Regions from separate parts of the Homo sapiens genome. Here all the other regions are reported to be linked to region 1. The links are microRNA targets in miRTarBase. Many come from high-throughput screens and were not tested one by one. Region 1 holds a microRNA gene; each other region holds the end of a gene's coding sequence.
What was found. The annotated mature microRNA hsa-miR-122-5p reads UGGAGUGUGACAAUGGUGUUUG and lies in region 1 at 2,233-2,254, opposite strand. An mRNA with a match to its seed (bases 2 to 7 or 8) in the 3' UTR can be bound and repressed. Matches are read on the target gene's strand: a 7mer-m8 pairs with bases 2 to 8, a 7mer-A1 pairs with bases 2 to 7 and ends in A, and an 8mer does both.

Region 1 (3,097 bases):
ACACAGATTCGACTGTGAAGCATGAGATTTCACAAAATAACTAGGCCAAAGGAGGCTGCAGGTACAGGACAGAACTTTAGACTTAAGAGATCCATGTTGAGTTGTGGCTGGAGGACCAGACGATTCCAGAACCCTTTAGACTCTGTTTGTCAAACCGATCATCTTTGCCCCATGTTGTATGGATCAAATGAAATGGCATGTGATATGGTTTGGCTGAGTCCCCATCCAGATCTCGGCTTCAATTGTATCGCACAGAATTCCCACGTGCTGTGGGAGGGACCCAGGGAAAGGTAATTGAATCATGGGGGTCAGTCTTTCCCCTGCTATTCTCATGATAGTGAATAAGTCTCACGAGATCTGATGGGTTTATCAGGGGTTTCCACTTTGGCTTTTTCCTCATTTTCTATTGCTGATGCCACGTAAGAAGTGCCTTTCATCTCCCGCCATGATTCTGAGGTCTCCCTAGCCATGTGGAACTGTAAGTCCAATTAAACCTCTTTTTCTTCCCAGTCTCGGGTATGTCTTTGTCAGCAGCATGAAAACACAGACTAATACAGTGTGCATGAGCGTGATCTGTATAACAGTAGAGCCCTCTATTAATGCCTGTTCAATTAGAGCCTTTGCCAAAAAAATACACACAAAAAGGAATGTCAGTGTCTCAATTATTTCAGGGAGTCTGATTCTCTTCTTGACAGTAGATGGTGCCAGGAGGGAAGAAATGAGAGGTGGTAAGAGATGCAGGGCAGGCAGGGGTGCTCTTCTTCTTCTTTGGACAGAGGCATCTCATGACCTTGAAGCCTTTGTAGTGTATCATAAATGTGTGGGCTGCATTCAGGTGAGGCTTTCCAGCAAGGGACTCAGAATTATTTCGCAAAGTTTTGCTCATTTGGCTCCCGTTTGGAACAATTACAATGGTCCCAAAATATAATGCGAGCCAGTGAATGCCCATCTCTGGAAATAACATCAGACACATTTAATTTAAAAGTGTCTTCAATGCCTAGGACAGTGTCAGGCACACGGTAGTCTCTACACATATTTATTTCATAAGTGAATGGTTGAATGGTTGAATTTGTTTCTGATGGTTGATCTAACCCTGTCTATTTGATTAAACATGTCCTACTTCATTTAACCAAGCCTGGGGAGGGAAGCTTTAGTCTGGCACAAACGAAACCTACTCCTGACTTTAGACACCTCTCAGAGACAGAATGGGTTCCAAACCAGAGCACCTGGCTGGGCCAACTGTCCTAGAAACTGCATGGGTCCCAGATTTGCTATGGCAGCTCACACATGCTTCATAAACAATTTTCTGATGGTAATTCACTGATGCAAGAGGAAGAAAGGCCTAGTGTACGAATTCAGTAATCAGCCTAGTAATTGATTGAAATCAGTAGAAATCAAACATATTCTAGAATTTCTGAAACGTCAGTGAAACCATGTGTAAGTTTATTAGAAAGTTGGATTTTTTAACGACGAAAAGAGAAGGACCCACACACCTTAATTTTGTACCTATAAGCTTGCGGTCTGTCTGCATAACATAGATTTAGCCCAGTCTTAGCCTTCTGCGTCTAACACTTTCCTAACTATTCATTTTAAGTCTATAAGCATGGGTTAAATGATTACCTCGTGCCTGGCCTTGTGTTGGGGGCTCTGAGGAACTCTGCAATCTTTTTATTTTCATTTTTTGAGACAGGATCTTGCTCTGTCACACAGGCTGGAGTGCAGTGGTACCATCACAGCTCACTACAGCCTCAACCTCGTGGGCTCAATTGATCCTCCCACCTCAGCCTCTCAAGTAGCTGAGATTACAGGCACATGCCACCATGCCTGGCTAATTTTTGTAGTTTTTGTAGAGACACGGTTTCACCATGCTGCCCAGGCTGGACTTGAACTCCTGAGCTCAAGTGATCCGCCTGCCTTGGCCTCCCAAAGTGCTGGGATTTCAGGCGTGAGCCACCGTGCCTGGTCTGCAATCTTTTTATTGACTTGGGAAAACAAGAAAATTAATCACCAGCTAAGGTATGTAACAACAGCATGTGAGAGGCAGGGTTCAGCTAACCATATTGGTTATGAGTGCAAAAGAGCCAGACTTTATTCAGTAAGTACACAAGATTGAGAAGACTGATATCAGATGAACCTTCTTGCTCAAAGCAAACGATGCCAAGACATTTATCGAGGGAAGGATTGCCTAGCAGTAGCTATTTAGTGTGATAATGGCGTTTGATAGTTTAGACACAAACACCATTGTCACACTCCACAGCTCTGCTAAGGAAACTCTGTAGCCACGAAGGTGTTAACTTCACCTCCACATTCCACCATTGTCACTGATAATAGGGGAACCTTGTCAGCTCCACATATTGTGACCTAAGCAGAGAAAAGAAGCATCACGGGTACAAGCATCTTGAGCAATGGGAAGAGCTGAACACTCTCAATGAAAGGCTTCTGTGTTCTGGAACAGTAGAGTAGTAGAGGGGTCCACTGCCTGTGTTCCACTGCCACCCAGCAAACCCCTTCTGCAAAAACTTCCTGTGAAAATGGACAGGAACTCTGTTTGCAACAATTTTCTAAAATGGCTGAGAGAGAAAGAATCTCTAGAGGGAATAGATTTCTGGAAATAAATACTTATTGGAAGACTACATTATAAATGAGAATAATCTGGCCGAATGAATGGATACTCTCCAACTCTCACCTCTTCACCTACTTCCCAATCCATCATCAGTAAATGTGATCAATTCTGCAGTCTAGGAAAATTAAAATTATTTTATATGGGGATACAGCAGTTAGATGTGTTGTGATCTACTCTCCGTGGCATCTATTGGATATAAAGGCATCTGGTCTTGCTCAAATGTTCAATCTTCTTGACCACAGTCATTTTCCACCATGGCGGTGGGTGGGAGATGAGGGGAGAGAAGAAAGAGAGGAAGATGGAGAGAGAGGAAACGAGTCCATTTTTAGTTCATGATACTCATTTTCTAGCAAAAAGGGAGCTCCAAATAAATCCCTACAGGATTTACTTGGCTTTCCTGTTAAAGATGGTTTATAATTGTTATGTGAACTCCTGCCCACCATGGAGAATGAGAGGAAATAAAGCATTTTACCT
Region 2 (3,097 bases), not on the chromosome of region 1:
GCCAAGCTGTGATGCTGGCTCGTGGGCCTGCACCATTGTTGTGCCAGACAAGCTGTTCTCCGTCAACCTTGCATTTAGGTTTTATGCCGGCAGCCTCTTCTGAACACAGAATCAGAAAAAGAGATGTGTGTGAGAAACTGCACGGGGTGATGCAACCAGCCGGCTTCTCTTTGCCCTTCCAAGGGGTGTTTCTTTCTGCACCCACAGACTTAGCAGCATAAAAAGCCTTGCTTGTTTGATATGAAAAGACTTACAAATTTAGATGTAATGCCACAATTCTATCAACATTTAAAGAAACCAGCTATACAGTAAAGATAATTTGTTTTTATTCACAGTAATAAATATTTAAGGTTTTAGTGCACAACATAATTAAGTACTGATAATCAAGGCAACATTTAAATTTTTTTAACTGCTATTTTCAAGCTAAGGGCCAACAGAAGTATAAGATTTACTATCATTATTTTTATATTATTAAAGGTATTCCAACTTTAATTTGCCTGGAATAGTACTTGGGGCAGATGCAGCCAAAAGCTACAAAATTTAAAGGATTAAGTTTAAGGTTTAGATAATGAAATCACAATCTTGTACAAAATTGGGATCTCAATATCTTTCTACCCAATATAAACATGGCCTTAGCATTCAGTAAAGAAATACAGGTTTGTAGCCTAAAGAAATGAAATCATATTTCCACAGTGAATGTTGTGATCTGTGAGCAAAATGTAGACTTTATTGAAGCCACAGAGGCCTCAGTTGATGAACTCATGAACCAGCCTCTGGCTAGGGGCACTGACTAGTAGCCTGACTCCAGGATCCACATTATGACATTTTAAACACAGAACTGCAGGTGCAGACACCATAAAAATACTCTAGTTCTTAAAGTCTTAAATTTCCACAAGGGAAATCGTGTCATAGGAAATAAGAGGAGAACCTGTATCGTGTTCCCAACATGGGCTACACACAAGGAAAAAAACCATGCAAACACAACGATGATGGGCTCTTCTTGTAATGAATGCCATCCGTTGCGCAGTGACAATACAGGCAGAAACTAACAAACATATGCAAGTCTGTTACGAGGAGAACCTGCATTGATGTATTCAGATGGAGAACCAGGTATTATTTTACTGTTGTCATTTCAGCAGCGCTGCCAAGATCCAGCGCACTTGCTAATTTAATTTATGATGATATTCTAGGTAAAATTTTCATAGACTCATTGCTTTCATTAGACACCATCTGGGAGAACTGCCTTCCATTTCTGATGATATTATCATTTTTGCCATGGCATTGGGAATAAACATACTTAGCTTTATTTTAAGCCCTGTGCACTCAATGTGAATTTTATGCCATGTTCATGGCACATTCTAAAAAAGTTTATGTGATAATTGCTCATGATTTGCATGATAATATCCTCCTCTATGCAACTTACACATATCAAAAGTCTCAACCTCAAAACTGTGCAAGTTGTCATGAATATGGCTCTTAGTTTTCTCCAGTAAAACTGTAGAAGGGGTACTTGAGACTTCTACATACATTTCACTTTCTAAGTAAAGGTCCCACAGTCTTTCCCAAACCTTCCACTCATGGTTGGATGCGCAAATAGTTGCCTCATACAATTATTGGAATTATTAAGAACCCAAATGAAACACAAGCTTTCCTTTATTATTGTTGTTTTCTTATTGCAAAAAATACTCAGTTTCTTGCTGATGCGGTAATTAAGCTCTGAGAGCTTGACTTTTAAATTTGGTCATGTTAAGAATCATCACAAAGGTTTTTTTTTTTGTTTTTTTTCATTATCTACAGAGATTTTAACCAAAGTTACATTGTAACACACAAATGCTGTCTTGTCTTTAAGGCACAACACATCAGTATGAACATTCTGTTTGCCAAACTTAAAAAAGAGACAATATTATATTCCCATTTCCCCTCCCATTCCCCTCCCCAACAAAAGAAAGAAAAATTGCATCCACTTTGAAAGTCAGCTGCTAATAAAGTCACAGTAAATTATTTTCATCAATAATTTACACAAATTACATGTCTAAATAGGACTGTCCTTATACAGTCTGAGTGCATTCCAATTCAGATTTTCTGGGTTAGGTAGGCTAAAGTCAGATTCAAACCTCAGGGCTGAGAAGATCTCCCATTTTGAGGAATGTTGTTGACCACCTTGTCAGACGGAGCATGTGTGTTGCTGCTTTGCCAGGGTAAGAGTTCTTTGCTAAAGCTGCTCATTCCAGTTTGGACTCATTTGGTGTGTACCAGCAACCTCCACAGATTTTTAAAAAACCCATTAAAGTGTTGTAAATATAAGACCATAGAGTTTCTTTTCTGTAGCACTAAAGTTTAACTCCATTCAGCAATCTGAATTCTTCATTCTGGAATTTTTATTCCAAATATGATTTCATCCATTAAGACAATTTATATGTGTAGAGCCAGAGGCATTGAATCACACATAAAAATTCAGTGTACTTGAAATATAAAAAATGGATCTCCGGCTAAAGAACACAGTTACAAATACTCTAATTCCAGTGCTTGGTGGAGAGCCAGGAGGTCTGAGTGACTGGATATCCTCCAGAAGGGCATGTTGTGCTGTGTGGTTAGGAGAAGGAGGGATGGGAGAGAGAAGGGGAAGGAATGAGGCATGGAGAGAGATCACAACCATTGTCTCAATGAAGCAGCAGCACACACAGGGATGTGTGGTCCACCCAAGTTCAGGGGAGAGAGTTTAAAGGCGGGATGATCATATGTGAAGGCTTGGCAGCACCAATATGGCACTGTCAAAGTAACAGAGAAATAGATCTGAACTGGATTTTAATGAGAATAATAGCAAATATTAACATTTCTTAGATAGTTTAATATTTATTCTGGAAGTATCGCTACCAACATCAACATCTGGGAAAGCAAGTGGGCATCAAAATCCTACCTGGCTAATGGAAAGCAAGTTTTAATCAGTGCATCACTCCTACGGGCCTCTCAATTAAAAATAAAATGAAACAAAATGACAAACTTCTTAATTTTGTTAATCTAGGAAGAAAAGAGGGTGAATTCCTTTCTGTATAAAAATAATTTGAAGCAGGACTACATAAAGTAGAAAAAAAAGGTG
Region 3 (3,000 bases), not on the chromosome of region 1:
GTGTGCCTCCATGCCTGGCTAATTTTTTTGTTTGTTTGTCTGTTTTTGAGACAAAGTCTCTGTCGCCCAGGCTGGAGTTCAGTGGAGCGATCTTGGATCACTGCAACCTCTGCCTCCCGGGTTCAAGCGATTCTCCTGCCTCAGACTCCCAGACAGCTGGGATTACAGGCACCTGCTGCCACGACTGGCTAATTTGCATTTTTATTTTATTTATTTATTTTTTGAGACAGAGTTTTGCTCTTGTTGCCCTGGCTGGATAGCAATGGCGCGATCTTGGCTTACGGCAACCTCTGCCTCCCAGGTTCAAGCAATTCTCCTGCCTCAGCCTCCCAAGTAGCTGGGATTACAGGTGCCCACCACCATGCCTGGCTAATTTTTTTTTTTTGTATTTTTAGTAGAGATGGGGTTTCGCCATATTGGCCTGGCTGGTCTCGAACTCATGACCTCTGGTGATCCATCTGCCTCAGCCTCCCAAAGTGCTGAGATTACAGGTGTGAGCCACCATGCCCAGCAATTTTTGTATTTTTAGTAGAGACGGGGTTTCACCATGTTGGCTAGCCTGGTCTCGAACTGACCTCAAGTGATCCACCTGCCGCGGTCCCCCAGAGTACTGGGATTACAGGCGTGAGGCACCAGGCCCAGCCTCCCGAATATTTCCAATCTACAGTTGGTTGAATCCACAGATGCAGAAGCTAGCCACATGGAGGGCCAACTGTGTATGTTTATCTTATTCTTTTTTTCCCATCTGGCTTATCGAAAGCTTTGAGCTGGCCGGCAATAGATTTAATTTCTTTTACTCCCAGTTGGAGGAAAGAGCACCTATAAACTGTTTACTGTCTTTGACCCACCAAAAACTCATTTTGGGAAAGTCTTGGCCCTTTCTCTTGCAGCCTACAGAAGAGAGGGAAAAAAGCCAAAGGTGTCACTTGGGCCATGCTTTTCTTCCTCATTGTAGCCAGCACTCACCAAAATCAGCCAGGGGATCCAGGGAGTCAGCTCTCTAGAGGCTGGACCTATTGTCTTTTTTTTTTTTTTAATTTGAGACGGAGTCTCGCTCTTTCGCCCAGGATGGAGCGCAGTGATGCGATCCTGGCTCACTGCAACCTCCACCTCCCGGATTCAAACGATTCTCCTACCTCAGCCTCCCGAGTAACTGGGATTACAGGCGCGTGCCACCATGCCTGGCTAATTTTTTGTATTTTTAGTAGAGACAGGGTTTCACCATGTTGGCCAGGCTGGTCTTGAACTCCTGACCTCAAGTGATCCGCCCACCTCGGCCTCCCAAAGTGCTGGGATTATAGGTGTGAGCCACTGCGCCCGGCCTCAGCTAGTGTTTGCTTTCGTACAGTTTTCCCTCCTCAACTGGGACTACTTATGATTCTCAACCAAGGCAGTAACTCTGCATTTCTATTAAAAAGATCTGAAGTGGTTTTGGCAAAATAAGAAATTTATTACATATGATTGGCAGATACATGCTGCTGATATATTATTCTTACTGTTTGAAAAAAAGTCAAAATAAAAATAATGTTATTTTAATTTTAAATACCACACAATTACAGGTCCTTGAGGATCAGGGTTGGGCTCAGGGAATTACCTCGTTTTTTCAGAGAAACCAGAGTGGGCAGAACCATCTCCAAATTCTTTTTTTTTTTTGAGACAGGGTCTCGCTCTGTCACCCAGGCTGGAGTGCAGTGGTATGATCATGGCTCACTATAGCCTCAACCTGGGCACAAATGATCCTCCCACTTCAGCCTCCCAAGTAGCTTGGACTACAGGTGTGTACTACTGTACCTGGCTAACTTTTGTATTTTTTGTAGCGATGGGGGTCTTACTACATTGCCCAGGCTGGTCTTGAACTCTGGGGCTCAACTGATCCTCCCACCTTGGCCTCCCAAAGTGCAGGGATTACAGGTGTGAGCCACCCTGCCTGATCCAAACTTTTTCTTTTTGAGACGGAGTCTCGCTGTGTTGCCCAGGCTGGAGTGCAGTGGCATGATCTTGGTTCACTGCAGCCTCTGCCTCCCGGGCTCAAGCAATTCTCCTGCCTCAGCCTCCCGAGTAGCTGGAATTACAGGTGCACACCACCAAGCCCGGCTAATTTTTTGGATTTTTAGTAGAGACGGGGTTTCACCATGTTGGCCAGGCTGGTCTTGAACTCCTGACCTCAGGTGATCCGCCTGCCTCAGCCTCCCAAAGTGCTGGGATTACAGGCATGAGCCACTGTGCCTGGCCCAAACTTTTTTTTTTTAACGTAGACTTTCAGCTGCATGACCTGGTCCCAGCCCTGTAGCTCGGAAGCCCCAGGAGGTGAGGTTCACACCCTTAGGGCTGGGACTCTCTGAGCCCTAAGGATGAGATTCTAAGTTCAGAGATGAGTTGAGGGCTTCCCTGAAGGGACCAAGGAAGTCCCTGTGGCAGAAACAACAGGAGACAAGAGGTCAGTGGTGCGGAGGGGAGGGGATGGTACAGAGGGGCCTGGGGCTGGATCGGAGGGTTTTGGTTGGGAGGAGAAGAGAGGGGAGGGCAAGAATTCTTCTCCAGGATGGGCATTCCCCCATGCTCACTTGTGGGTTTCCCCTCAGTACAGTAGGGCCCCCCCGCAAAGCAGCAGCTGCAGTAGGTAGATAAGATGGAAGAAGCTTCTTCTGGTAGTTTCTAGAACCTGAAGACAGGGCCCGTCAGGGCCTTTGATTGGACCCAGGAATTCTCAGTATGCCAGGGAGGTACAAGTGCTTGGTTGGTTAATGAGGGGTCCCAGCCAATGGTCCCAGGCCCTGGAAGGCACAGTCAGGCTGTCTTGCAAGAAGGGTAGTGCTGGACTAGGACAGACGGACTCGCACGATCACACTGGAGTTGGTCACACGGGCTCCATAGTGGCCAGCCCAGAACTGTGTGTCCTGGCCCCGGTGTTCGAAAGACACAAAGCGGACGCCCATCTTGATGTTGGAGAACACGTGGGTGACCTGTAGGCAGAGGAGGGGCTCAGCTCCATTGTGCCAC
Region 4 (3,097 bases), not on the chromosome of region 1:
CCACCTGCAGCAGGATTTAAGTACCAGTCAGTTGGTCTGGGCCACGTTTCCAAAGTCACTAGGAGCCCTGAAAACCTCTGTATAATAAGGTAAGTTTTTCATTAAGCTATTTTTATTTTATGGTACAGGAAATTGGTTGAAGCTGTCAAAAAGAATCACTATTAAGCATGTTTTCTGGGGAGAAGAATTCTAGGACAGCTTATCAGAGGGGTCACCCCAGGAAAGGGGAGAGATGTCTGTCACAGCCTGATGGGTGGTGTCTCACCATTGATCTCTGGCAAGTTGTCCTGGAAAGGATGGTCAGAGTTCCAAAGTACAATATTATATTTCCAATTAAAATGTAAAAATAAACCTTTTTCATAAAACACATTGGCCTCGGCTCTGGAAAGCGACTACAAAGCCCAGTGCTTTGATTGAGACAAGCTGAAAGCAGACACTGTAATTGATAACGGAGATAAGTCAATCTGTGTCCTTTAGAGAATAATGAGTTCCATTTTTCATCAAAAAGATCTCCTTGTGCCGAAGAAACATACTTTCAATAAATCTACTTAATGGTTTCCCTCTAATGATATATAACATTGCTCTTTGGAACCGAGCGTTGCAGCGGGTCCCTGCCAACAACTGCAGGCCACCCATCATCTGCATTGGTAATTCAACCCAAAGAAAACCCAGGCGGTTCCCAGGAAGTGCTGCTGTGCAGGAGAAAATACCCGAAGGCCTTCCTGGACTCTGTGAGCAGGTAGAGAGGATGGGATTTGAATAAATAAGCTATCACTAAGCTTGAGCTCCTATGCAAATTTCCATTCCCTCGCCCCCACCACCATTGCTGTATTCATGGATATATCGGGTCTAAGGGTGACTTATCTAAGGATAAGCTGTGTCAGACAGCTCAAGAGTTAAATCCTTCAGATACGTGCGTCGTGAGAACTGATTAGCTGGGTTTGTTCCCGGAGCTCATTGCTCTCCTATAGACCTGACAGCCTTGGTGTAGTTTGATGTGGGCTGCCGGAGGGAGCCTGTGTTTATTGCATTGGGTAAACTGAAGATCCACTTCAATGATCCTGCCTGAAGCAGTCCCTCGCCCCATTTGAGGGTCTAAACCTCAGGTGGCGAAGGCCTAGCAGAAGGAAGGGCCTGCGCCCTTCAAAGGGAATGATTTAGGGCCATCTGCGCCCTGGTGTCAGGCAGCAGGACTGGGTTTCCATCCAGTTTACCTTTGTGAGCCCCAACTTTACAAATGTGCTGCTTTTTTTCGCAAGGACTCAGCTTTATGTAACATAACCTATTTCCTCCAAGGGCACCCAGCCCTCCCAATACTGACGGACTTCCCCACATGGGAATCATTAAAAACAACCCTAGAGTTATTTCCTTATGTTGCTGTTTGTTTATTCTCCAGTCGCGTGTGAGTCAGCCAGATCATGATTTGTGGTGGTTTTGCTTGTGAAATCTTACATAATTATATTCCTATTGTCATGTTGGGTCGAGCAGTTAGACCATGTAGTGTTTTCTCATTGCACAATGTTTGCAAATCAATAAGGAGAAAGCCTGAACAATGCGATGACGTTGGCCAGGAACCCGGCCCGAGTCACCCAGGAGGCGGCTCTGCAGTTTCTCAGGTACAGCCTATCCATTCTCTAATCCCACTGCTGGGCAGTGACTAGGCCGGGTGGTGGCCTTTCGGATGGGTTTCACGGAGGTGATATTTAAAAGATGAGAGTGAGAGAACAAAAGAACAACAACAGCGCTTCACACAGAAACCAACCACATTTTTACTGCATCTGCTCCACGCTGGATTCCAACATGCTGGCCCGGAGCGTGGCTGGCTGGAAGCAACTCCAACAGGTTTTTCCCTTCCCCGTCATGTACATTATTTATTTTTGATCCTACTCACTGTCCCAAGTCCAGAGGCAGTTACAAAAAACACTCTTGATGCAAACCGTGAGTGGCTACAACACACGGATGGGGGTGGGCGCGATTCCCACAACAGGGAGTGGAATCCGGGAAGATGATATATAGGGGCAAGACGCCCCCTTACTTGCTAAGAGTATATGGAGCTCAAAACCCACAATTGCTTTGTTTTGTTTCTCAGTTCCTGGAGTATGTTGAAACTACTTGCTCTTAACATTAGTTCGTATTTTTCATCAGATATCTGACCTGATTTAAAACATGTTTGTTTGCATACATCTTTTTGTAGTGCACCTTATAGTTATTCCTACTGATATAGGATGAAGATTATAAATATCTGCATAAAAAGAGAAACCATGTGACTCTATATGAAGACAACCATCACATTCCACAGCACATCATTGGTTCATTTTCGAATTGTCAAGCAGTATTTGAAATGAGAGAGAGAGAGAATATAACTGAACACAAGCACCACGACAAAACAATCATAACAACAGAACCAAACCCAACTTCTCTATTATTAATCATGTTAAAATTTTAGCTTTGTTTCTAACACTTTTCTTTACTTGTTATTTTAAGCTCCAGTAGCAGGATCAGATTTCTGCTGCCTCTAGGCAAATGAGTTATGATCTGATCTCGAGTTCCAAGGGAAATGCTCAAAGTTTTATTTTTCCCCAGTTGAATAAACAGTACCATGTATATTATCTCTCGTGTTAGAATAGTGTTGTCTTCACATAAGACTCAAATAATGGTATTAGTCATTCATTTCCCTGAACACAGACACCCTCATGCGTGCTGACAGGTTTATAAGGATGCGGTGGCAGCCGCGGGTTCTGGGAGCTGCTAGACGGCCGAGTTTGATTTCTTGCAGTCCTGAGCGATGGAGCCCGGGGGTGCCTGGTTATTGTCCGCTTTCTCTCTCAGATGCTTGGCTTGTCTGAAAGATTAATACATTAACAAGAGCTGAAGGCCTGGGGTTGCACATCTTCAGACATGTTTATTAGCAGATGGCACAGAGGATTCAAAGGTCACCACAAAAGTGACATTTTAAAGTGAAACAACAATATTTATGTTCAGATAGTCTACTGATGAGATCATGTGGAAATGTTTTTGATTAAATTAGCTTATAAATGGTTGACAATCTATAGACAACTTAAAATGCCATGTCTGTTTACCAAATGTTTTCTTCTCA
Region 5 (3,097 bases), not on the chromosome of region 1:
TCAAAAACCAAAAATGAAACACCAGCTTGGGCAAAGCTATCTTCCTCATGCCATTTTCTAATTGATCATATCCCCCAGATGTGGGAAACTAATCACTTTTGTTTAAAATTAGTTTTTGCGGATCTAATGGGCGTCTAAATAATTTTTTTTTTTTTGAGACGGAGTTTCGCTCTTGGTGCCCAGCTGGAGTGCGACAGCGTGATCTCGCTTCACCGCGACCTCCGCCTCCCAGGTTCAAGGGATTCTCCTGCCTTGGCCTCCTGAGTAGCTGGGATTACAGGCAGGTACCACCACACCCATCTAATTTTGTATTTTTAGTAGAGATGGGGTTTCTCCGTGTTGGTCAGGCTGGTCTCGAGCTCCCGACCTCAGGTGATCCGCCTGCCTCAGCCTCCCAACGTGCTGGCATTATAGGCTTGAGCCGCCGCGCCCGGCCTAAATAATAATTTTTAAAAATTACTCTTTTTTGGTTTAGAATTACTTAGCTGAACTGTGCAGAAGCAAGCTTCTGGATGCCTTGATAAAAAGCCAAAGTTGTACACTAGAGGGCTTTAGGATGAATAAAATGTTAAAAAACGCCAACAGGACGAGGTGGCTGATCACCTGAGGTCAGAAGTTCAAGACCAGCCTGACCAACATGGAGAAAACCCGTCTCTACTAAAAATACAAAATTAGCCATGTGTGGTGGCACATGCCTGTAATCCCAGCTACTTGGGAGGCTGAGGCAGGAGAATCGCTCAAACTCGGGAGGCAGAGGTTGCGGTGAGCCGAGGTTGCGCCATTGCACTCCAGCCTGGGCAACAAGAGTGAAACTCCGTCTTAAAAAAAAACAAAAACAAAAGCAAAAACAAAACGCAACAAAGCGAGACATGACAGGCAATGAAATAAATAAAAGGAGGCAGATCTCCTAAAGCCAAAATGTCCTATGCAGACAAACAGCATTACTGTTCACCCTGCATGGTGCCCACTATCATGCACAGTTGTATATTTAGGAGAAAAACGTTTTGGTACGCCAAAATACAAGATAAGCAGATAAAAGGGAAACCTGTGTGTGTTATTTAGTTATTCGGTACTTATATAAACCACTTATTTTACTACAACAAACTTCGAGGGCCACATTATAGCAGCCCAATACACTGGGAAAAGGAGTTTCTTTTCACAAGGACAATATTACTAGAGATGAACATTAAAAATTACTTAATAATCTAATAGAAAATTGGAAAATTAACATACATTCTAAAGAGAAGCAGAAGTTTACCTGGTTATTCAAAGTTCATATAATAATTTCCACATGTATAAAAAAAAAGAGAAGGGCACGGTGGCTCACACCTGTAATCCCAGGCTGAGGCAGGTGGATCACCTGAGGTCGGGAGTTCGAGACCAACCTAACCAACACGGAGAAAGCCCATCTCTACTAAAAATACAAAATTAGCCAGACGTGGTGGCGCATGCCTGTAATCCCAGCTACTTGGGAGGCTGAGGCAGGAGAATCGCTTGAAACCGGGAGGCGGAGGTTGCAGTGAGCCAAGATCACGCCATTGCACTCCAGCCTGGGCAACAAGAGCGAAACTCTGTCTCAAAAAAAAAAAATAAAAAATAAAAAGAACCAATTACCTAGAGGAGGGCCATATATATAACTTGGTTTGCTTTGAAACTCAAGACTGCTTCCCTAGGATATGGAATTCAAGCTGAATGAAAAGTTGTAGAGCTGGATGAGAATTTATTTCTCTCCGTGAAGGTATAATAGCATCACCCCTATAAGAAGATAAGCTCAAATACAACCAAAATTTCGATGCCCTACGCCCTGCCAGTAAGGGAGGAAAGCAGAGGTTACGATTTACAAGTAATTCTCTATGTGTTCTTTGGGAACCAGGATCCTCTGAGTCAATCCCTTCCAATCTCCTAAGTTTATTTTTAAAAATCTGAACCTGGCCACCACTTTACATGATGAGACTTAGAGACTGGTATCACAGCTTGATTTCAGAAGCTTACTTTCAAAAAAAATTTATTCAATGAATACACAATATAATTCCATTTCGAGTGATTAAAACCTATTTGTTGTTTAGAACCAAACAAAACTACAAGAAAACATTTTCAAAACCTTTTTTTTCAGGCTGAAGAAATCGTTTAATCCATTTTAAAGAAATCTCACATGATGTTCTGTCGGGATTAAAAATATACACGGAAAAAAATAAAACAAAATATATACACAGAAAGAAGCTCGCACAGAGTCAGGCGTGCAGCAACGTCACACACTCATTCCTTTCTGTTTCCTCTGGACACTCAAAATGTGAAAGCAAGTAAGAGGGGGGTGGTTAACCAAACCTTTTGGTCCAAGGAATAAAATTTCTTTAAAAAATTTAAAACGTCAAAACCTGCCAGAATAAGACAATAGAAGAGCGTATCGTCAGGCGCTGGGAATGGCACCACGACAAGGCATTAATGTGGATTCACTTGCACAGCTGCTCTCATAAAAGCTACACGATTCAGAGGTAACCCTAACTATCCGCAATCCCAACCAAAGTCATGTTCATGCCGCTGTCCTAGTCTGGACAATCATCTGTCACTCATCCAACACAGTTATATACAGAATGCGCAGTCCCAGCAACAGTGTAGATTACAGCAGGCGTTCTCTACCTGGACTCATGATTGGATTTCATTTCTAAATTACATCAGAGCTTTCAAAGATTGAAATACACAAATCTGCACTACCCAAGCCTCCTTGCCTGTACGGGAAACAAATCAGAAGAGCATTTATTGGGAACTGACACGTCAGGCCTCACAGGTGCTGGGCAGGAATCACAGAGGCTTGCTCTGCATCATGTCTTCCGTTAACCTGAAGCTTTGGGTTTATTGTGTTTGGCAAACCACTCGTCACTTTTATCTGCTGCCATTGCCTGTAAAATAGAAATAGAATATACACTGACTCCAAGCCTGAAAAACAAAAGACATAGCCCACTTTATATCTCACTGTACTGACCACAATAAAAAAAATTAACATTAAAAAAAGGACCCAAACCCCCGCTCCAAAAAAAAGAGAAGAGAAATAAAAAAAATTTTTTAACATTTAAAGAGTATTAATCCAGTACAGAGTGTT
Region 6 (3,097 bases), not on the chromosome of region 1:
TGTAATCCTAGCAGGTGGTATAACATCTTAATCAGAAAGTATTTAATTGAAGTTTGGACTATGAGGAGTGTCAGACTTGATTATCCTTTGAGAATGTCATTTGCTTATAAGAACGTAATGTGATTTATAGCAATGTCAGAATAGTCCAGATGTTTTAAATGGAAAAAATTGAGTGTACATTAATTTTGCACTGACCTGTAGTTCTGAATTTACCTTTTTGTGAAAATTCTTCGTTCTTTTCTTTTAGGTTGTAAAGCTCTCTGAAATAGTGACCTTAGCGAAGCAAGCACATGTGGATGTGAAATTTCAGTTGCCAATATGATCTGAAAACCCAGTGGATGGCTGAAGGTGTTAAATGTGCTATAATCATTAAGAATACTGTGTTCTGTGTTATTGTTCTTTTTCTTTTTAGTGTGTGGAGATTGTAATTGCCATCTAGGCACACAAACATTTAAAAGGATTTGGACTGCATTTAATTGTACCATTCAGAATGGACTGTTTGTACGAAGCATGTATAATGCAGTTATCTTCTTTCTTTTGTCGCAGCCAGTCTTTTTTGCTTCTCCTACAAAACGTAACTTGCAATTTGCCAGTTTATTATTGTTGGATACAAAGTTCTTCATTGATAAGAGTCCTATAAATAAGATAAATACGAAGATAAAGCTTTATTCTTTAGTGTTAAAATACAGTATATCTAATAACTAGCCTCATTAGTAGAGCAGTATATTAAAACAATGTTTTATGTAAAAAGTGTTTATCTTCAGCACCAAATACATGATAAATGTATCAATCACTATTTATAAACAGAGCTTTCAAACACTCCTCAGAATATTCTTCTAAGTATTTTGATGAAGTAACTTTGTAATTATTTGAACATTGTTTTAATCATTAGGAAACACTGATTAACTGCAAGTCTTCATGATTCTGTCATATTAAGAAACACCTGTAGGTTTGCTTCAAATAAAGGCATATATACCAAGGACTTACAGACAAAATTAAGAATGTCAATTTAAGTTAATAAAAATCTCCCAATATGATTTGGGTTCATGGCTTTTGTTTGCTTGTTTTGAGGTAAACACAGTAGAAGTTGATTTGTTCGTTATTGCAGTATAGAGGTCTAAGCACCAATTCTTAGATCATATACTTGCCATGACAGTGATTTGTTTTTTTTTTTGAGTCAGGGTCTCACTCTGTCACCCAAGCTGGAGTGCAGTGGTATGATCATGCTCACTGCAACCTCTGCCTCCTGGGCTCAAGCAGTCCTCCCACCTGAGCCTCCTAAGTAGCAGGGACTACAGGCACACACCACAAAAAAACATATGTGTTTTTTTTTGTTTTTGATTTTTGTTTTTTTTTTGGTAGGGACAGGGTATCACTATGTTGCTTAGGCTGGTCTCTTACTCCTGAGCTCAAGCAATCCTCCTGGCTTTGCCTCCCAAAATGTTGAGATTACATGTATGAACTACTGCACCCAGCCAACCATACATATTATACAGCTACTTATAGATAGATAGTTCACTGGAAGTCTGCTATTTATGTGTATGCCATCTAGTATATCCTCTAAAGGAAACAGAGGGGAGAATTGAATCCAAGATGCCTAACTTCAAAGCCTTTTCTTAACTATTTTACTGAGGAAGAGAGAAGCTGAGTTTATTTTTTGGTCTTGGACATGTCTAAATTTGTATGATGTTTTTGTTTTTGTTTTTGTTTTGAGATGGAGTCTCGCTCTGTTGCCCAGGCTGGAGTGCTGTTGCACGATCTCAGCTCACTGCAAGCTCCGCCTCTGGGGTTCACACCATTCTCCTGCCTCAGCCTCCCGAGTAGCTGGGACTACAGGCGCCTGCCACCACACCCAGCTCATTTTTTGTATTTTTAGTAGAGGCAGGGTTTCACCGAGTTAGCCAGGATGGTCTTGATCTCCTGATCTCGTGATCTGCCCGCCTCGGACTCCCAAAGTCTGTATGATGTTTTATATGGTAACAGGTGGATATTTTTAGACAGATTGTAGTCACATGGTTCTTTTTGTCCATATATGTAAATATATGTGTGTGTGTATATATACATATTGACCTTTTGCTCACTGCATAAAACTTGGTAGTTAACTAATGCCATGGAAGGAAATGTTGACCAAGCAGTAGACTATTTAACCATACTGATGGATTTAAGAACTTCTACCTATTGTGATGTTCTTAAAGTGTGATCAGATGTATATACTATGAGAGGCAGCATAACGTAGTGATGATGAGCACAGACTTTGAAAGTAGACTGTCTGCTTTGAATCTGGATCCACTACTTACTAGCTGTATGAGGGCTTCTTTTGTTTTTTGTTTTTTTGAGACAGGATCTCAGTCTGTCAACCAGGCTGGAGTGCAGTGGCACAATCATGACTCACTGCAGTTTCAATCTCCTGGGTTCAAGTGATCGTCCTGCCTCAGCCTCCTTTTGTAGCTGGGACTACATGTGCATGCCAACATGCCCAGCTAATTTATTTTTTATAGAGATGGGGTCCTGCTACATTGCCCAGGCTGGCATCAAGCAGTCTTTCTGCCTTAGAGTAAGTTTTAATGCTAGTGTCCCTCAGTTTACTTAGCTCTTTTCTTATCAGTGAAGTTTATTTAGTAAGGGAAGAGAACAAAAATATGTGAGAGAATTTATATGTAGAAAACAATATGTATTTTTAGCCAAATATATATTTGGTAGTTTACATATATATGACACAGAGTATCAGAGCCATAAACCATTTAAAATTATAGCCAGGTGCGGTGGCTCACGCCTGTAATCCCAGCACTTTGGGAGGCCGAGGTGGGTGGATCACCTGAAGTCAGGAGTTTGAGACCAGCCTGGCCAACATGGTTAAACCCTGTCTCTACTAGAAATACAAAAATTAGCCAGACATGGTGGCGGGCGCCTGTAATCCTAGCTACTTGGGAGGCTGAGAGAGGAGAATCACTTGAACCTGGGAGGCAGGCGGAGGTTGAAGTGAGCTGAGATCACGCCACAGCACTCCAGCCTGGGCAACAAAGAGCAAAACTCCATCTTAAAAAAAAACAAAACTTGTGATAATTAAAAGTCCAGTCATTTAGTTTTTACTTTTTAA
Region 7 (3,097 bases), not on the chromosome of region 1:
CACACACACACACACACACACACACACACGCATACCCTTAGGAAGTTCACATTGTTATTTTAATGTGAATGCTTTGCCCTTGGGTATACAACCAACAAAATTTTATTTCATGGGATCTCGCCATAATTTGCTGAGATTTCAATTTATGACCTACTGTGTCTCCAGATTCATTTAGATTGCCTTATTTAAAGAATTAAAATCTACAATGCCAAGCTGAACTAGGACATCTTCTCCTTTTTCAGTGACTAGGACATGGTGAGCATTAATATATAACCTTGTTCCGAGATGATGCTCAGGTACCAGGTTAGCAAGTGCTGGTGATTATATGTGATCAGTGATCTTTTAGTGAATATTTACGCTGTGCTAGACACCATGCCCAGTGCTTTACAGGTATCTTCTTTCTCTCAGCAACTATCTATACTAGATGAAAAAATTGAGGATTAGAGATGCTAAGTGATTGCTCAAAGACCCACAGCTACTAGTAAGTGATGGAGAGCAAAGCTCCTGCTCTTAACCATATTTGCTTCCCTTTGGGTCTACAAATAAGAGCAGTTTCTATATTTTCCATGACATATTAGCTTTTTAGTACTTTCAGATACGCATTTACTTTGTTTACATGCTCCTTGAGATCACTAACCTTTTTCTAGAGGTTAAATGTTATGTCTGGTTTGCTACCAATTTGTAAAGCCTTCCTTGTATATCCAAAGTTAAGTAATCTGAATGTCAAAAGTAATAGCTCAGATACCACCTTGTTACATCAAAATTGTGTTAACTCTGAAAAGGACATACACGGATGCCTTAAATTGAAAATATCGGGGTGTTGGTGCTGAGGACACCATCACTGTCACCAATACCAACCACTGCCATCATCAACAGCAGCTACCATTGACAGCATCATTTATGTGCCAGGAACCATGGAACCATGGCTGTATGTTTTACATGCAGAGTCTCTTAAGTGCCATAATAAGCCAGTAGAGCAGGGATTATTATCCTCATTTTACAGCTATGGAAAGTTAAGCTCAGGGAGGTTGTGAAAGAAGATCTGGATTTCAGATCTTCTCAAAGAACTTTAAGTTCATTCTTTTCCTAAGTAGGTGGACCTCTAGAAGCCATGTTAAAAATAAATTTTAAAAATGAAGATCAGTGTCTGATCTATAATTGGCACCTCTGCAGCAATTTGGGATTATTCTTTGACTTGGGAAGATTTACGTGAGATCCCACCCCCACACACAACAGCAAGCTATTGTGTTAGATATTCAACCTGCGCCAAGGCAAAATTCCTCTTACCTATTATTTTGTCATTCTCTAATCTTTACTTCATGATGGCATCAATCAAAAATATCTGTCAAATGGGGACTTAACCTTTCTTTGCAATATAAAACCTTCCATAGAATCCCAGCATGTCAGGGTTGGTGATAGCTCACAGGTCATTTTGGCTAACCAGTTTTCCTTCTCCCATTAGAAGGCTTGGCTTTCTTCTCTATATTATTTATGGGGAGGGAGAATGGGACAGTCTGTAACAAAAGTATAGACATAATGAGATCAAATCATTTGTGGTAAACTGTTAGGAAATGCAGAAAGTTGTCCACATTCATGTTTGACTATACAGAGAACAAAACACGTGCTGTGATCAGTCAACACCTGACTGAACACCAAATGTCAAAGTATGTAACGCAGCTGCATGCCACAGGAAGTCAACTGGAATAATAATTTTAACAATTTATTTTGATATAATTTTTTTTTTTGAGACGGGTTTCACTCTTGTTGCCCAGGCTGGAGTGCAATGGCCGATCTTGGCTTACCGCAACCTCCACCTCCCAGGTTCAAGCGATTCTCCTGCCTCAGCCTCCCTAGTAGCTGGGATTACAGGCATGCGCCACCACGCCCGGCTAGTTTTGTAGTTTTAGTAGAGACGAGGTTTCTCCATGTTGGTCAGGCTGGTCTTGAACTCCCGACCTCAGGTGATCCCCCCGCCTCAGCATCCCAAAGTGCTGGGATTACAGGCGTGAGCCACTGTGCCCAGCCTTGATATAATTTTATACTTACAGAAAAGCAGCACGAGTAGCTCAAAGAACTCCTGTTTACTTTTTACCTAGATTTACAAGTTATTAATATTTTGCTCCATTTGATTTATCATTCATTCTTTTTATCCTGAACCACTGGAGAACACTTTTTTGACATCTTGTCCGTTTATCCATAAATATTTCAGCATTTGTTTCCTATAAACAAGGCCTTTTAGAATAATGAAATTTCTGATCAAAATACAAAGTTAACATAGAAGCCACCAGAATAAATGTCAAAATGTTAACTACAAGGAAACAATACTTTGCTTTCACGGATAAAGATAAGAAAAATACTTTGCCTTCATTCCTCACAAGAGAGGAATTTTTTGGCCTGTTTTGCTTACTGGGATGTTCCTAGACCTTGCCATGGTGCCTGGCACACAGCAGGTGCTCAGCAGATACCTGTGAATTTCTTAATGTGATGGTGTGATAGTATATTGACCACATTTGTAAACAAAGTATTTCTAAAATAAAGCAAAGGCAACAACAGCAAATTATCTAGTCATCTTTATTAGCTATAATTTGGAATTTGCAAGTGACAGAAAAGGAGAAAGGCTTCAGACGCAAAGGACTTTTAATAAGTTACCTTTTGAAGATGAGACAAGACAGGTTCTAAGCTAATCAGACGTGTCCACCAGGTGGACCTGCGCTCTTTTCACAGGTAGCGGTTCCTGATGTACTCTCGGTACATGGAGGAGTCCTCTTTTCCTAGGGGCTGCATGATACCTTGGCTGGCCTGGATGTGGGCTTGGAAGATCTCTGTAGATTTTCTGTCTACTCTTGGGGGCTGAACTTCATAGATGTTATCTTGCGAGAAAGCCGAGATGGGTGTTCTATAAAAGATGAATAAAGAGAGGGCTGCATTAAAGAAAATATAAGGAAGGACCACAGGGAGCAGTCTCAGAAGCACTTGAGAGTCGCTGGCATTGAATAAGCAGGCTGACTTTTGACAAGCTGCTGGGATGACCTCCCCAGTCCTTGCGAGGCTGGTTCTCTTCTCTGCCTGGAGGAGAGAGCTGGACCAACACCTCTGG

Region 2: the mRNA of EYA4 is a reported target of hsa-miR-122-5p. The part of its 3' UTR that is shown has no 7-base or 8-base seed match.
Region 3: miRTarBase lists FBXO27 as a target of hsa-miR-122-5p. Seed matches in the 3' UTR shown: 7mer-A1 at 1,979-1,985 and 7mer-A1 at 1,683-1,689.
Region 4: the mRNA of STAU2 is a reported target of hsa-miR-122-5p. The part of its 3' UTR that is shown has no 7-base or 8-base seed match.
Region 5: miRTarBase lists GLOD4 as a target of hsa-miR-122-5p. The part of its 3' UTR that is shown has no 7-base or 8-base seed match.
Region 6: the mRNA of SUCLA2 is a reported target of hsa-miR-122-5p. Seed matches in the 3' UTR shown: 7mer-m8 at 817-823.
Region 7: miRTarBase lists FIG4 as a target of hsa-miR-122-5p. The part of its 3' UTR that is shown has no 7-base or 8-base seed match.

What each region holds. Positions count from the first base shown.
Region 1 is chr18:58,450,245-58,453,341 of GRCh38, reverse strand. It overlaps MIR122 (microRNA 122), which reads right to left and starts at 2,268; the gene lies at 2,184-2,268. It overlaps MIR122HG (MIR122 host gene), which reads right to left. Exons shown (of 3, transcript NR_170245.1): 3 at 2,061-2,523. MIR3591 (microRNA 3591) reads left to right here and starts at 2,190; the gene lies at 2,190-2,262.
Region 2 is chr6:133,528,211-133,531,307 of GRCh38, reverse strand. It overlaps EYA4 (EYA transcriptional coactivator and phosphatase 4), which reads right to left. Exons shown (of 20, transcript NM_004100.5): 20 at 1-2,583. The coding sequence ends at 2,503. All of the region lies in intron 6 of TARID (TCF21 antisense RNA inducing promoter demethylation), which reads left to right. Among named protein-coding and RNA genes, the nearest start is that of EYA4-AS2, 73 kb to the right of the region's middle.
Region 3 is chr19:39,022,592-39,025,591 of GRCh38, forward strand. It overlaps FBXO27 (F-box protein 27), which reads right to left. Exons shown (of 6, transcript NM_178820.5): 6 at 1,430-2,963. The coding sequence ends at 2,820. Among named protein-coding and RNA genes, the nearest start is that of FBXO27, 8.5 kb to the right of the region's middle.
Region 4 is chr8:73,418,624-73,421,720 of GRCh38, forward strand. It overlaps STAU2 (staufen double-stranded RNA binding protein 2), which reads right to left. Exons shown (of 15, transcript NM_001164380.2): 15 at 1,746-2,842. The coding sequence ends at 2,749. STAU2-AS1 (STAU2 antisense RNA 1) reads left to right here and starts at 1,451. Exons shown (of 3, transcript NR_038406.1): 1 at 1,451-1,616.
Region 5 is chr17:757,342-760,438 of GRCh38, forward strand. GLOD4 (glyoxalase domain containing 4) reads right to left here. Exons shown (of 9, transcript NM_016080.4): 9 at 1,989-2,897. The coding sequence ends at 2,832. Among named protein-coding and RNA genes, the nearest start is that of GEMIN4, 6.6 kb to the left of the region's middle.
Region 6 is chr13:47,940,596-47,943,692 of GRCh38, reverse strand. SUCLA2 (succinate-CoA ligase ADP-forming subunit beta) reads left to right here. Exons shown (of 11, transcript NM_003850.3): 11 at 248-1,037. The coding sequence ends at 322. Among named protein-coding and RNA genes, the nearest start is that of LINC00562, 9.5 kb to the right of the region's middle.
Region 7 is chr6:109,824,887-109,827,983 of GRCh38, reverse strand. It overlaps FIG4 (FIG4 phosphoinositide 5-phosphatase), which reads right to left. Exons shown (of 23, transcript NM_014845.6): 23 at 2,558-2,896. The coding sequence ends at 2,719. Among named protein-coding and RNA genes, the nearest start is that of FIG4, 140 kb to the right of the region's middle.